Linked DNA regions of Homo sapiens: region 2 is linked to region 1. Evidence: fine-mapped expression QTL. A gene starts in region 1. The other region holds a variant in brackets. All regions are shown on one strand. Distances are between the middles of the regions.

Evidence for each region. PIP is the estimated chance that this variant, and not a neighbour inherited with it, causes the effect. A credible set is the group of variants that fine-mapping cannot tell apart.
Region 2: its variant is the best candidate, but not a certain one, in a credible set for the expression of ZNF487 in whole blood (TOPMed, PIP 0.82).

The regions. Positions count from the first base shown.
Region 1 is chr10:43,434,671-43,440,045 of GRCh38, reverse strand. It overlaps ZNF487 (zinc finger protein 487), which reads right to left and starts at 2,935. Exons shown (of 4, transcript NM_001355444.3): 1 at 2,784-2,935. RefSeq lists a silencer at 2,651-3,310 and an enhancer at 3,411-3,480.
Region 2 is chr10:43,534,262-43,539,636 of GRCh38, reverse strand. No RefSeq gene overlaps it. Among named protein-coding and RNA genes, the nearest start is that of ZNF239, 38 kb to the left of the region's middle. The variant A/C (reference allele first, on the strand shown) is at 3,234.

The DNA.
Region 1 (5,375 bases):
ATATAAAACAAAACTTACCAATTAACCTTTTTAAAGTGTACAGTTCAGTCTTAAGTAGATTCACATTGTTGTGAAACAGATCTCTAGAACATTTTCATCTTGCAAATCTGAAACTCTGTACCCATTAAACAACTTCCCATTCCTCCTTACCGCAGCCTCTAGCAACCACCATTCTACTTTTCTGTTTACATGAATTTGACTACTTCAGATTCTCATATAAGTGGGGATCATACAATATTTGTCCATTACTGGTTTACTTCACTTAACATAATATCGTCAACATTCATCCATGTTGCAGCATATGACATTTTCTTTTTTATTTTCACTTATTTATTTATTTTTGAGATGGAGTCTCACTCTGTCACCCAGGCTAGAGTGTAGTGGTGCCATCTCGGCTCACTGCAACCTCCACCTCCCAGGTTCAAGCAATTCTCCCTGCCTCAGCTTCCTGAGTAGTTGGGATTACAGGCGCCCACCACCATGCCCAGCTAATTTTTGTATTTTTAGTAGAGACAGGGTTTCACCATGTTGGCCAGGCTGGTCTTGAACTCCTGACCTTAGGTGATCTGCCCTCCTCGGCCTCCCCAAGTGCTGGGATTACAGGCGTTAGCCACCGCACCCGGCCATCTTATTTTTATTTTTTGAAGAGATGGAGTCTTGCTCTGTCACTCAGGGTGGAGTACAGCAGTGCAATCATGGCTCACTGAAGCCTCAACCTCCTAGGCACATGTAATCCTCCGACTTCAGCTTCCAGAGTAGCTAGGACTACAGGCACATGCCACAATGCCCAGCTGATTTTTTTTTGAGACGGAATCTCGTTCTGTCACCCAGGCTGGAGTGCAGTGGCGTGATCTCGGCTCACTGCAACCTCGGCCTCCCGGATTCAAGCAATTCTTCTGCCTCAGCCTCTCAAGTAGCTGGGATTACAGGCATGTGCCACCATGCCCGGCTAATATTTTTGTACTTTTAGTAGAGACAAGGTTTCACCATATTGGCCAGGCTGGTCTCAAACTCCTGACCCTCTGATCCACCCACCTCGACCTCCCAAAGTGCTGGGACTACAGGCGTGAGACACCGCGCCCGGCCTGCCCAGCTAATTTTTGTATTCTTTATTTTATTTTATTTTTTGTGGAAACAGGATCTCGCTATGTTGCTCAGGCTGGTCTGGAACTCCTGGACTCAAGCAATCCTCCCACCTTGGCCTCCCAAAGTGCTGGGATTACCAGCATGAGCCGCTGCATCCAGCCAAGATTTTCTTCCTAAGGCTGAATGATATTCTATTGTATATGACACATTTTGTTTATCCATCTATCAATGGACACTGGGGTTACCTCTCCCTTTTGACTATTGCAAATAATGCTGCTATGAACATGACTGTACAAGTAACTGAGTCCCCGCTTTCATTTCTCTTGGATTCAGACCCAGAAGTGGTACTGCTGGATCATATGGCAATTCTATTTGTTAATTTTTTGAGGGAACTGCCATACTGTTTTCCATAGCTGCTGTACCATTTTACATTCTTACCAACAATACACAAGGGTATATTTCTTAATATATGGGGGCTGGGTGCAGTGGCTCACGCCTGTAATCCCAGCACTTTGGGGGGCTGAGGCAGGTGGATCACCTGAGGTCAATAATTCGAGACCAGCCTGGCCAACAAGGCAAAACCCTGTCTCTACTAAAAATACAAAAATTAGCCGGGTGTGGTGGCACGTGCCTGTAACCCTCGTCACTTGGGAGGCTGAGGCAGGAGAATTGCTTGAAGCCAGGAGGTGGAGGTTTCAGTGAGCCAAAATCACGCCACTGCACTCCAGCCTGGGCGACAGAGGGAGACTCCACCTCAAAATATATATATATATGGAACCTAAGACAAAAGCCTGCACTCACCCCTAATCTGCTAAATTCAAGTTCTCTCCATGATGAGGTTTCAAAAGGAATTAGTGCAAAATGTATTTAAGGATATGACCAGAAAGGAGAAAGAAAAAACAAATGGCTATTACACACACAGCAGAAAAGTAACACTAGGAGGCAAAGGAACTCAATGAAGAAATATTTCGGTGGCAGGCGGTGGTTCAGCCTGTAATCCCCGCACTTTGGAAAGCTAAAGCAGGAGAATCACTTGAGCCCAGGAGTTCAAGACCAGCCTGAGCAACATAGTGATACCCCTGTTTCTATTTATAAATAAATAAATAAATAAATATTTCCAACCAAAGAATACAAACTTAGTAAAGCTAATGAAGGAAGAACACAGTGAAGAGCTGCCGATGTAAGAGAAAAAAAGAAAATTTCCGGAGGAAAAAAGTTCAAAGATTTGCAACTATTTCCTCAGAAGGAACTGGGAAAAGGGAGTTTTGAGTAATAAGGCCTTGTGCAAGTTTCTGACTCTTAAGGATGTGAATGTACTGCCTTAAAAAATAAACTAAAAAGAGCCTCTTTTCTCACCACAACTCAACAATCATGAAGGTATCCTTGCAAGTGTGTGTAGACCTCTCATGCCTCCTAGGTCCAGGGTCACTCGTCCAGGACTCTCCCAATATCCCTGCCCAGAGGAAGCGCTTCCTCAGACTCGGTTCCTTCTGGTTGCCCTTGTCTCGCTTCTCTAGGGTGGGCTGGCCGCTCCCGCACTGGGGTCAAAGATCCTCCGGGTTCTCTCTGCCACGACTCGCCCTGATCCCAAATCCCAGCCCCACGGTCCCCACCCCCAGCGGGCCCAGTCCCCGCTCGATCCTGGGTGTGCGGCCCTCGACCTCAGACCCGGCCCCTGCCCGCCGGCCGCCCCTCACCTCGGCCTCGGAGGCTCCACGCTCCCCCTCTCACAGCCCGCACCTCGGCGGTCTCTCGGAGGAGGGAGGAACCCGAGGTACCTGGTAGTCGTAGCTGAGGAACTTACAGGCTTGTTGACCATCTCACCATGGAAACTGCCGCAGCGCTCCCTGGGCGGGGCCGCCGAGGGGCGGGGCCTGCGCGAATCCCGGGCGCCCGCCAGTCCAGCGCTCCCTGCGCTTCCGGAAGCCTTGCTGCTCCCGCGTGCCTAGCGGGGGCTCGGCCCTATGCCACGGGCATCCCACCCTGCTACCAGCTGCCCTCTTGTCCGCTGGCCGGACTCTTACCCCAGCCTTCTTCAGGAAGACACGGCGCAGTCCGGCTTCCCCACGAAAGCGAAGGTCGCTGGGACCGCGGCTGGGCGTCCGGGGGCGGGGCCGCGACGCCATTGTGACGCGCTCGGAGCAGGGCTGGGCCGAGGACCCCGGGCGCTGGAGGGCAGGCCCTAGCCACTGCTCCTGAGGCCCTGGAGGCAGCTGACGCTTGAGGCCGCTGGGCGCCGCAACGTGAGCCCAAAGGACGCCCCGCTTCAAGACTGGCGCAAGAGGAAAAAATGAAGGTCGTTTTCTGCGGAGGATGTTAGGAGAACGAGAACTGCGGGCCAGAGAACTGACCTAGCTTAAGGAGCGCAGGCAGCCTCTGCCGCCGGCTCTTGGGGAGACACGGAGAGGATGGGGTCCCCGCTCCGCATCAGGTCCTCTGACGCACCCCGGCTTTCCAGGAGGTAGGACTGGCCACAGGCCTCCTTCCCAGGGACAAAGTGCAAAGCAGAGGCTGTCAGCAGCGTGACCTTCGCTGCAGGAGAAATACGCGTCCAGTTCGTTTTCGTCAGAGTTCTGCTACATCAGGCCTGCCGTATTTGCTGTACACAAATCAGCCAACTTCCCAGGCCTGGGTGCGGAGGTATTTGTTAAGCACATGCACACAGTTGGAATTAGCAGCCTCAGGGATCAAAAGTTGTCCTTTTTTTTTTTTTTTTTTTTGGAGACGAAGTTTCGCTCTTGTTGCCCAGGCTGGAGTGCAGTGGCGCGATCTTGGCTCACTGCAACCTCCGCCTCCCGAGTTCAAGTGATTCTCCTACCTCAGGCTCCCGAGTAGCTGGGATTACAGTCGTCCGCCACCACGCCCGGTTAATTTTTTTTGTTTTTAGTAGAGATGGGGTTTCACCATTTTGGCCAGGCTGGTGTCGAACTCTTTTTTTTTTTTTTTTTTTTTTTTTTTGAGACGGAGTCTCGCTCTGTCACCCAGGGTGGAGTGCAGTGGCGCGATCTCAGCTCACTGCAAGCTCCGCCTCCCAGGGTCACGCCATTGTCTTGCCTCAGCCTCCCGAGTAGCTGGGACTACAGGCGCCCGCCACCACGCCCGGCTAATTTTTTGTATTTTTAGTAGAGACGGGGTTTCACCGTGTTAGCCAGGTTGGTCTTGATCTCCTGACCTCGTGATCCGCCCGTCTCGGCCTCCCAAAGTGCTGGGATTACAGGCATGAGCCACCGTGCCCGGCCTGGTGTCGAACTCTTGACCTCAGGTGATCCACTGGCCTCGGCCTCCCAAAGTGGTAGGATTACAGGCGTGAGCCACCGCGCCCCTGCCCAAGAGTTGTCATTTCTGTAGCAAAGCAGCTAAGCAATATTCTTTTGCCTGCCACCTAAATGTGATTAGGTGCAGCATCATTAAGAAAAAAAATAAAAAGCCCGGGCGTGGTGGCTTACGCCTGTAATCCTAACACATTGGGAGGCCAAGGCGGGTGGATCACCTGAGATCAGGAGTTTAAGATCAGTCTGGCCTACATGGTGAAACTCCAACTCTACTAAAAATTCAAAATTAGCTGGGTGTGGTGGCACATGCCTGTGATCCCAGTTATTCGGGAGGCTGAGGCAGGAGAATAGCTTGCACCCGGGAGGCAGAGGTTGCTGTGAGCCGAGATCTCGCCATTGCACTCCAGCCTGGGCAACAAGAGCGAGACTCTGTCCCAAAAAAAAAAAAAAAAAAAAAAAAAAGCCCTGAGACCCACGGTAGCTGGCCTGGATTACTTGATGAACATAAACAGGTTCACAGAAAATTGATATCAGACGAGTTCTTTCTGTGACTGAGGGAAGGAGAAAATAATTCCGATCAGTGATCTTGCCTGCATAAATAAAAACTGGCACTGCGCAACCACACACACAGAAGAATAAACATCCCTTCTTCAGCTAGCATGAGTAATTACTGCTTTTTCTCCAATGACAGCTTTAGCTCCTCTCTATTCCTCCTGCTTTCTGGATTTAAAAAAAATTTTTTTTTTTTTTTTTTGAGAAGGAGTCTTGCTCTGTCGCCCAGGCTGGAGTGAAGTAGCACAATTTCGGCTCACTGCAACCTCTGCCTCCCAGGTTCAAGCAATTCTCCTGTCTCAGCCTCTCGAATAGCTGGGATTACAGGCACCTGCCACCTAGTAGAGATGGGGTTTCACCAGGTTGGCCAGGCTGGTCTCAAACTCCTGACCTCAAGTGATCGCCTGCCTCGGCCTCCCAGAGTGCTGGGATTACAGGCATGAGCCACCGCGCCCCACCTAAAAT
Region 2 (5,375 bases), 100 kb before region 1:
CTCCCGAGTAGCTGGGATTACAGGCATCCACCACCACACCTGGCTAATTTTTTTTGTATTTTTAGTAGAGATGGGATTTCACCATGTCAGCCAGGATGGTCTCAATCTCCTGACATCGTGATCCACCCACCTCAGCCTCCCAAAGTGCTGGGATTACAGGCATGAGCCACCGCACCCAGCCAAGATTCTGTCTTAAAACAAGAAAGAAAGAGAGAGAGAGAGAAAGAAGAAAGAAAGAGAGAGAAGGAAGGAAAGAAGGAAGGAAGGAAGGAAGGAAAAAAGGAAAGAAGGCAAAGAGACAAAGAGGAGGCTCATGCATGTAATCCCAGCACTTTGGGAGGCTGAGGCAGGTGGATCACCTGAAGTCAGGAGCTCCAGACCAGCCTGGCCAACACAGTGAAACCCTGTCTATATTAAAAATACAAAAATTAGTTGGGCATGATGGCTCACGCCTGTAATCCCAGCTACTCAGAAGGCTGAGGCAGGAGAATTGCTTGAACCTGGGAGGTGGAAGTTGTGGTGAGCCAAGATGGCACCACTACACTCCAGCCTGTGAGACAGAGCAAGACTCTGAAAAAAAGAAAGAGAAGAGAAGAGAAGGAGGGGAAGGAAGGGAAGGAGAGAGAAAGAAAGAAGAAAGAGAGAGAAAAAAGAGAAAGAAAGAAAAGAAAGAAGGAAGGAAAAATATCGGGGGAAACAGCCCCCAATATTTCAATGTAGATTCTTTCTATTTTCCATAAGTGATGGCTGGCTGAGAAATAAAGGAAAGAGTACAAAGAGAGGAATTTTACAGCTGGGCCTCTGGGGGTGATATCACATATCGATAGGACTGTGATGTCCACTTGAGCCACAAAACCAGCAAGTTTTTATTAAGGATTTCAAAAGGGGAGGGGGTGTACGAATAGGGAGTAGGTCACAAAGATCACATGCTTCAAAGGACAAAAGGCAGAATAAAGATCACATGCTTTTGAGGAAACAGGACAAGGGCAAAATCAGAACTACTGATAAGGATCTATGTTCAGCTGTGCACATATTGTCTTGATAAACATCTTAAACAAAAGAAAACAGGGTTCAAGAGCAGAGAACCAGTCTGACCACAAATTTACCATGGTGGAGTTTCCCAATCCTAGTAAGCCTGAGGGTACTGCAGGAGACCAGGGCGTATTTCAGTCCTTATCTCAGAGACTGCCTAAGACAGACACTCCGAGAGCGGCCACTTATAGTCCTCCCGCAAGGAAGGCATTCCTTCCCCAGGGTATTATTTATTAATATTTCTTGCTAGGAAAATAATTTAGTGATATCTTCCCTACTTGCACATCCTTTTATAGGCTCTCTGAAAGATGAAAAATATGGCTCTATTTTGCCTGACCCCACAGGCAGTCAGACCTTATGGTTGTCTTCCCTTGTTCCCTGAAAATCACTGTTATTCTGTTTTTTTCAAGGTGCACTGATTTCATATTGTTCAAACACACGTTTTACAATCAATTTGTACAGTTAACAAAATTATCACAATAGTCCTGAGGTGACGTATGTTCTCAGCTTATGAAGATAACAGGATTAAGAGATTAAAGACAGGCATAAGAAATTATAAAAGTATTATTGGGGAATTGATAAATGTCCATATTAAAATGAAATCTTCTCAATTTATGTTCAGAGATTGAAGTAAAGACAGGTGTAAGAAATTATAAAAGTATTATTTGGGAACTGATATATGTCCATATTAAAATGAAATCTTCACAATTTATGTTCCTTTGCCACAGCTCCAGCCAGTCCCTCCGTTCAGGGTCCCTGACTTTCCACAACAAAGGAACGAAGGAAGGAAAAAGAAAAGAAGAAGAAGGAAGGAAGAAGAAGGAAGAGGAAGGAAGGAAGAAAGGAAGGAAGGAAGGCTGGCTGGCTGGCTATGTGAGGACATAGCAAGAAGGTGGCCATCTGTAAGCCAGGAACAAAGAGAGCACTCACAAGAAACTTAATCTTCCAGGAACTCAGTCTGGGACTTCTAGCCTTCAGAACTGTGAGAGAATAAGTTTCTGTTAGTTAAGCAATCTCTTCCGTAGAATTGTATTTTATTTTATTTTATTTTATTTTACAGACAGATTATCACTCTGTCACCCAGGCTGGAGTGCAGTGGTGCTATCTTGGCTCACTACAACCTCTGCCTCCTGTGTTCAAGCGATCCTCCCACCTCAGCCTCCTGAGTAGCTGGGACTGCCGGTGCCCACCACCATGCCCAGCTAATTTTTGTATTTTTAGTAGAGACAGGGTTTTGCCATGTTGCCCAGGCTGGTCTCGAACTCCTGAGCTCGAGTGATCTGCTGGCTTTGGCCTCCCAAAGTGCTAGGATTACAGGCATGAGCCACTGCACCTGGCCCCTTCTGTAGTATCTTAAGGCAGCACAAGCATACTGATGCAGATTTTGGCACCATAAAGTGGGGTGCTGCTATAATACCTAAAAATGTGCAAGTGGCTTTGGGACTGGGTGATGGGAAGAGGCCAAAAGAGCTTTAAAGTACATGCTAGAAAAAGCCTAGATTGCCTTAAGGGACTGTTGGTGAAAATACTAAGATTAAAGGAAATTCTGGTGAGAGCTCAAAAAGAAAGTAAGAGAAACAGAGAGAGCCTCTATTGTCCCAGAATACATATGTCAACATGAACACAATGTTCATAGATATGTGGATGTGAAAGGCCATTCTGGTGAGGCCTAAACAGAAATGAGGACCGTGTTACTGGAAACTGGAGGAAAGGCAATCCTTGTTATAAGGTGGCAAAGCTGGCTGAGTTGTGTTCTAGTTTTGTGGAAAGTAGAATTTGCAAGTGATAAAACCAGATATTTAGTTGAGATTTCTAAGCAAAACAAGGAAGGTGTGGCCTGGGTCTTTCTGATTGCTTACAGTAAAATCTGAGAAGACAGAGAATTGAAGAAATGATTGGCAAAAGCGAACAAGAACTTAAAGATTTGTAAAATTCTGAGCCTATCCACACTGCAAAAGAGAAGCATGTTCTGAAGAAAACACTGAGGATGTGACTGGATTGCCGCTCAACAGAGAGATTAAGGGATTATATAAGTAGAAATACTGTCAAATTGAACTGAAGGTGATGGAAAAGGGAAGACTGCTGGGCTTCTTGGATTTTGCAGGATGGGACAACAGAGCTATTTGGTTGGGAGATGCACTATTCTTTGAAAGGGAAGAATGACCCCAAAGATCATAAAGGCTCCCTCCTTGGTTTCAAAG[A/C]ATAAAGCCACCATTTCTTCAGTTTAAACAGGCCAGGTTAACCCTGCCTAGGGCCTTGTGGGCAGGTCCACCCGACAGAGTATGTGGTGGAACAACCACCTAGGGCCATGGGGGTTGAGGCCACCACCCCAGGCAGGAAGGGCATTGAGCCAAAGAGGTGTTTTGTTTTGTTTTTTCCCTTGAGACAGAGTTTTGCTATTGTTGCCCAGGCTAGAGTGCAATGGCATGATCTTGGCTCACTGCAACCTCCATCTCCCGGATTCAAGCAATTCTCCTGCCTCAGCTTCCCAAGTAGCTGGGATTACAGGCATGTGCCACCACGCCCAGCTAATTTTATAATCTTAGTAGAGAAGGGGTTTCACCATGTTTCAGGCTGGTCTTGAACTCCTGACCTCAAGTGATCCACCCGCTTTGGCCTCCCAAAGTGCTGGGATTACAAGCATGAGCCACCATGCTTGGCCAATAAAGAGGTCATTCTCAAGCCTTAGATCTAATGGAATTTGTTTTGCTGGTTTTGGACTGGCTTGGGACCGTCACTCCTTTCTTTCAGATTTCTTCCTTGTGGAACAGGAATGTCTATCCTATGCATATACAACCACTACATTTTGGAAGCCCATACTTTGTCTGGTTTCACTTGTTTCATACCTGGAAAGGAACTTTGCCTCAGAATGAATCATACCTCAATGGTCACCCTTTCATGATTTAGATAATATTTAGATGACACTTTGGACTTCAGATCTACAGAATTAATGCTGGAATGAGTAACACTTTTGGGATTGTTGGGATGGAATGCATGTATTTCAAATGCAAGGACATGAACTTTGAGGGGCTAGGAGCAGAATATAATAAATGAAATGTTTGTGTCCCCCCAAAATTCATATATTGAAGCGATAAGCCCCAGTGTGGCTTTATTTTGAGATAGGGCCTCTTTGGCAGCAGGGAAGGTTCAATAAGGTAGTAGGAGTGGGCCCTGATCTAATAGAATATGTCTTTCAAATAAGAGATACTAGAGCACATGCTCTATCTCCCCATCCCCCACCCTGCAAGCCATGAGGAAGTGCCATGTGAGGATATAGTGAGAAGGCAGCAATCCAGAAGCCAGGAAGCACTTACCAGAAAGAGAATTTGCCAGCACCTTGATGATGGACTTCAAGCCTACAGAATTATGCAAAAATAAATGTCTGTTGTTTATGCCACCAAGTCTGTGGTATTTTGTTATGGCAGCCCAAGCAGATCAATACAGCATCTCAAACATGCCCAATCCTTGCCCACTCCCAATATATCCATGGGATCTTCAAAAATCCATACTAATGGAGAAAGAGACTGTCATCTCAGGAACTGAAGGAGAAAGAGTCTTGGCTGGTGGGAGCTTGAATTATTCCCAACTCTGTATGAGATCTGGGAAGTGTTTGTCTTTGAGTTCCCCAATAATTGCTCCTTTGGCAGCAGCTGTTCTTTGCCAAGCCTTAAAGAACATGACCCGTTGCATATGCAGATTGGTACTCAGATTTCTCAAATTGTCTCTGCTAGCTCCCTTTCCAGTATGCTAGTCCACATACTACAGCTGCCTTAAACTTCTTGAACTCTGAAATATTTATGCTTCAAAGAATAAGAATATGTTTGGAGTTATCTCTATCTATGCCATAGTCTAGGAATTTCCTTCTGACAAGAAGCTGTGCCAATCATAAGACTGGCCATATTTGCTTCCTTTCTTTCAAGAATCATGGTTGTGCAATTCCTAATATCCAAGTCTTAAAACAGTTGTTTCATACATTTTTCCAGTTTTCTAGTTATTTCATCTATCTTGGCCAGTTTGCCAGTTGTTTAAGACCACAAATACTGGAGAATGGGTGGAAGCAAAAATTCCTTTTATAGGTGGAAGCAAAAATCCTTTAAATAATTTTGTATTTAACTGTTGCATAGTTTATTATTCCATTTGGCTGACTCTGAGTTTACAGTCACACTATGTGGATTCTTTTTTAATAATAACTTTTTAATATAGAGACAGGGTCTCATCATGTTGCCTAGGCTGGTCTCAAAATCCTGGGCTCAAGCAATCCTCCTGCCTTGGTGCCTTCGTCTCCCAAGGTGCTGGGAATACAGGCATGAGCCACCATGTCTGGCCTCTCTGGATTCCTTACC